2 separate regions of the Homo sapiens genome follow, and region 2 is linked to region 1. The links come from fine-mapping of genetic effects on gene expression. A gene starts in region 1. The other region holds a variant in brackets. All regions are shown on one strand. Distances are from middle to middle. Region 1 holds the start of RAVER2 (ribonucleoprotein, PTB binding 2). Region 2 overlaps JAK1 (Janus kinase 1).

What was found. PIP is the estimated chance that this variant, and not a neighbour inherited with it, causes the effect. A credible set is the group of variants that fine-mapping cannot tell apart.
Region 2: its variant is the best candidate, but not a certain one, in a credible set for the expression of RAVER2 in spinal cord (GTEx, PIP 0.57).

What each region holds. Positions count from the first base shown.
Region 1 is chr1:64,743,366-64,746,393 of GRCh38, forward strand. It overlaps RAVER2 (ribonucleoprotein, PTB binding 2), which reads left to right and starts at 1,710. Exons shown (of 12, transcript NM_001366165.2): 1 at 1,710-2,056. The coding sequence starts at 1,808. RefSeq lists silencers at 1,364-1,463, 1,484-1,683.
Region 2 is chr1:64,878,141-64,880,640 of GRCh38, forward strand. JAK1 (Janus kinase 1) reads right to left here. Exons shown (of 25, transcript NM_002227.4): 4 at 885-1,008. Among named protein-coding and RNA genes, the nearest start is that of JAK1, 87 kb to the right of the region's middle. The variant C/T (reference allele first, on the strand shown) is at 1,304.

The DNA of each region.
Region 1 (3,028 bases):
CTACTGCCCCCTCTGTCTAGTTCCAAAACTAGATTTTCATCATTCCATAAGGATGTTTGCACCCATTACCTTCTCCTCCAGCCCTTGGTAAACACCAATCTGTGTTCCGCTCTATGAATCTACCTATTCTGATATTTTATACGCATGGAATCATACAATATATGACCTTTTGTCTCTGGCTTCTTTCATTTAATGCTTTGGAGGTTCGTCCACCTTGTAGGGGTCCTTAATTCCTTTTTATGGCTAAAAATATTTCTTAGCATATATATATCCCACGCTTTGCCTATCTGTTCATCAATAAATGGACATTTGGGTTGTTTCTATCCTTTGGTTACCAGGAATAGTGGTGGTATAGAAGGGTGTATTGCCGAATATCATTTTAATGATACAAGTATTAGCAGCCATTATTTTTGGGTGGACGGATTACGGGTGAATTATTTTATGTTATTCAGAACACTGGGCTTTGGAATCAATCAGAACAGATCCCATTTCCTCACGTGTAAAGTGAGGAAAACAAAACCTACGTAATTGAATGATCATGAAGAGTAAATAAATATGTATATGTAAAGCATTTAGAAATGCGTGGTTGGGGGGAGCACATGGTAAGGACTGAATTTGTAGTATTTTTAAAAAATCTTTAAAACATTTTGTTTTTCTTTTAATTAGTGTTAAAGTCTTTTTTTTTTTTTTTTTTTTTTTTTTGCTAGTGTACTTGCATGCTACACAATTAAGATGCATGGTCCCCTTCGCTGATGGTCACCTGGGCTAGTGCCAAAGGCTGCTGGATTGTTTGATCTGATGACATCCGTTTGACTAAGTATAGTTCTACACTGTAACTCTCCCTCCAAGTTTCAATTAAAATAATGTTCCAAGCAGCGTATTCTCCAGCCCCTCTGCCACAGCTCCTTTTCCATTCTAGTCTTTGTTTCAGCATCACTTTCCATGTTGCAGACCCAACTACCCAGGTTTTACATTTTAGGAACTGCATGACAGGGACAGAGGGACAGGTGAAGGGCACAGGCTTTCTCATACACAGCTAGCAAAATACATTACGATCAGGTTTTACCAAATACATAACATTTCTCCCACAATGTCCCTCTTTTTACTCCCCAGAAAATCTCATTGTAAACTCAAACTTTGCCAAATATGCTCTTCTTGAACCAACAGAAGGGTTACCATCGGGAGCCAGCCGGGCTGCAGGAGGCGCCCTCCTGCCACCCCTCCAGCCCCATCTCGGGTGTGGGAAGACCGAGTTCGCGCCCGCAGCCCCCGGGCCGCCCCAGCGCGGGAGTTTCGAGGGGAGCCGGGGGAGAGCTGCGGCGTCACATGGGGGGCCAGCCGGGGACAGGCGCCTGGGGCTGAGTCTCCCGGCGAAGCCACCGCGAAGGGGCCGCATCCCCCAGAGAACGACCCTGGGCGTTCGCGAAGGCCTCGCAGAGAGGGGGAGCCCGCCTGCGCGTCCGCGCCCTCACAGGTGTCCGGGTGGCGGCGCCCGGCCCCGCCTGCGGACCCGCGAGAGGCGGGCGCGGGCGCGCCTGTGCGCCGGGGCCGGGGGCCGGCGGGGGAGGTTCCCGCGAGGTGGTTCTCGGGCTCCTCCTCGGCGCCTCAGGTTTCCTCTCCCCGCCAGCAGGCTGCTGGCTGCGGCGCCGCCTCTCTCTACTCCCTCCTCCCACCGCCCCCCTTCCCCGCGGTTGGGCCCACTCTGCGGCCTCTGCCCGCCTCGCCCTCGCCCGGGCCTCCTCCCGCTTTCTCTCTCCGCTTCCCCTGGAGCCTCCGAGGAGTCCGCAGCCGCTGGGCGCCCGGGAAGATGGCGGCGGCGGCGGGAGACGGCGGCGGCGAGGGGGGCGCGGGCCTGGGCAGCGCGGCGGGGCTGGGGCCGGGGCCGGGGCTGCGCGGGCAGGGCCCCTCAGCCGAAGCGCACGAGGGCGCCCCGGACCCGATGCCCGCCGCGCTGCACCCTGAGGAGGTCGCCGCGCGACTGCAGCGGATGCAGCGGGAGCTGAGCAACCGCAGGAAAATCCTGGTGAAAAACCTGCCCCAGGACAGCAACTGCCAGGTACTGGGACGGTGATAGGGGCGACGCGTCCCGAGGGGCGGCGGGGCGGCGCTCCGTGTCCAGGCTGGGATCGGGGGCGCCTCAGAGCGGTCCTGGGGAGTGGGTCGGCGCCGAGTGGTGAGAGCGGCCCCTCGGTTTGACTGAGTTCTTGGGGTTTCTAGCCTGCAGACGCCCTGCCAGGGAGGGGGGCAGATTGGGAAACTGAGGCTCTGAGTGGCGAAGCGGCTTCTCCAAGGTCACGGGAATCAGGGGCTGCTGCCTCCAAGTTCGGCCCGGTCTTTCCTTCCCCTACGGCCGTAGAGGAGTAGGAGGTGAAGGAGAGTGGAGGTGAGTTGTGGAGCACACATTTTGCGGGGGGGAGCGGGGGTAGAGGGGGCCGAAGCTTCGGGAGCACCTTGGCAGGGGCGAGGGCTCCAACGTATAGTCCCCGGTGCTCGGGAGTGCCATAGGGGGCAGGGGCACGAGAGAGCTGGGAGTGAGTTTCGCTGTTGTTGCAGAAGCACTTGCCCAAGTTTCTATGAAACAACTCTGTCTTCTCAGTTTGCTAAGGCCCCAGAATAGAGTTATTGCTGCGCTCCTTGGAGCCTTGCAGCCGCCTCCTGCTACGCCAAGTACAGTACTGGAGGGTTTGTTCTCAGTGACTTGGATGAGGTTTAAAGATAGCTACTCTGTGTATTTAATCCAGATTAACTGTTGCTTTTAAGATTAGAAACTCTGCATCTATTTAACTTTTTTTTTCCCCTGATTTCAAAAGCTGCATGCTCATTGTAGGAGAGCTAGGAAAGACAGAGAAGCACAAAGGGGACACAGAAATTACCCATATTTCTGATACCTGAAGATAACCATTGTTATCCTGGGATGTTGTTCTTTTCTCTTTTCCTATGCATATATATTTTTGTTTTATCAAAAGCTTGAAATCATTTCTTTGATTCTTCAGGATTTCTTAGCTGTCTGGATGTTCACACATGTTTC
Region 2 (2,500 bases), 130 kb after region 1:
TTAATACCTCTGTAAGTTAACCTGCTTTTCAAAAAGGATCCACCCTATTTATAATCTCCACTGCTAAACACACATTAACTTCTGCTTAGCAAGTATGTAACTAACATATTTTCCATTCTAGTTACTGAACAAATATGTTTACAAACTCAGGAGACTGCAGCTATTGAAGTACTGACTGTCTGTGTCACCTGTGACATTTCTCAAAGTCTGCAATATGGGAGAAAAGGCAGGTGCCCATCAGAAGAAAAATTACAGCTCCACAGCCAAAAATCCTCAAGGAGTAGTCAAAACATCCACTCCCAGAGAGCAAGGCCAACCTAGAATTTCTAGTTAACACTTCAGGCAATGTTTCTCGAGCTTTTTAGTTGCAACTTTTAGTAAGAAAAATATTTTATATCATGACCTTTATATATATAGTGTGTATATATATATATATATATATATATATATATATATATATATATATCTCAAAAGTTTAAAAAATATACTTAGGTTATGTATATATGCTGATAGTATCGTCTCCTGTTTCTTTTTCTTAAATTCACTAAATTAAATTGAATTCATAACTGTGAATCCACTAAATTAAATTCATAACTATGATTACCCATTTGAAAAACTCTGCTGTAGGACACTAATTCTATTCAAAATATCCTCTGCCTTATCAAGATTTCTTTTCTAAAATGTGGCAGAGGAAGGTGATCAAACTCATCTTGAATTGTATTCCAAATACTGAAGAAGTCCTTTCTCACATCAAGCAAATACAAAAGTTACAAATTACAAAAATGACTACAATACTTCTTGGTAAGTGACTCAGGGCTCCAGGCTGACCACTGTCCCTCAGTGCAGAGGGAGCCAGGCAGGTACCAGGTCAGTACTTCCCATACCTCATCCGGTAGTGGAGCCGGAGGGACATCTTGTCATCAACGGTGATGGTGCGATTTGGAGCATACCAGAGCTTGGTGTTCTCGTCATACAGGGCAAAGAGGTTGTGACAAAGAGGAGAGATACCTGAGGAAAAGTAAAAAAACACATCAGAAAATCAAGGCGGATACATTTGGCCATCTGTTTCTAAACCCAATATATGCAAAGATAAGGAACTCTCTCATCCACAAAGAATCTGGGTCACTCATATCCTCTTAGGGCAAACAGACTTCCGACCAGGTTCGGTCAGGCTGTTTTGATCATAATCATCAAGAACTATGACTCCCCAGAAATATGCACTGTAGCTCCTGGCAAACCAAATTTAGATCATTTAAAAATAAAACTCTGATGATATTTCTCATTACAGGTATCCGTCACAGAG[C/T]CTTATCAAATCCAGCTTCAAAAAAACCCCTATCTGAGAGGTTCACAGATCCTGCCTGATGTGCACTTTGCTAATCGGAAACACTCTGGGAGTTGGGGAAATCTTCCATCTGTTTCCTACAGAAAGCACTTAAACAATTCTAACACGCTCGTGATTATACATCAGACATGCAAACAAATTCCTGGCAGTAGTATGCAAAATGCATATTAGAATAAATAATAACCAAAGTGATTTTTGTCAGTGATTAAAATCTATTACCATTAATAATAAATATACTTCTTAAGTACTCTGTATGATTATCACAAATATTTTTTATTTAGTAACCAACTAGCAAGAAGATATATGGCTTCACAAAGCTGGCCCAACAGTGCTCCCCTGCCTCTCCACTCCACCAGTTGCCTCCGTCAATAAGAGAATGATGGGAAAGACCAGGGAGATTATGAAGTCACTCACTTCTACGCCCATGATTAAAATTTTATGAACCTGAAACATAGGCAGGTTGGGGGGAGAATGACTGCCAATAATCAGCTATTACTGATATTTTCATAAGCAGCCAGGCCTCAAACTAAGATGAGGTAAACTTAAATGACAAAAAACCTGGGAGAATATGAGGTAATAGGCACTTGTTTCCCAAATCGGACATCTGCAGTGAGACTGACACTGACAGGGCCCCCTCCCTGGCCCAGCACACCCAGGCGGGGACTCTCTCCAACGCAGACACTGAGTTAAGAAGCTACAGATACCTTGGCAGCTATCTAGTGCTCTCCTGAACACCTCAATCCATGCTTCTCAAGCAATATGAACAGTTACCCTTCAGAAGTTATAGTCTTTCTTATAAACCGAGAATATGGAGTTAAACTGTAAAGGGAAGTTTTCCTTGGGAACATAGGCAAATGGCTTTTGGATTCAGTATTATTAGGACAAATAATTCAAATATGCTATAGATTTTCATTCATAAAGTGGCTTTTGTGGACTGGGCTGGAAACCCAGCCTTTCTTTATGCATATCCACATTTGAATGTGCACCAACACTTACATATCTGAAGTGTAACTTATTTTAACCATGGAACTGTCTGTAATTCTAACACAGGTCTGATTCTAACAGTATTACTACCCATAAACAGAAAGATCAAAGACATATCTCTTTATATAAAAGTACTGAGTAGTAAAACAATAATACTAACATTTACTGAGGGCT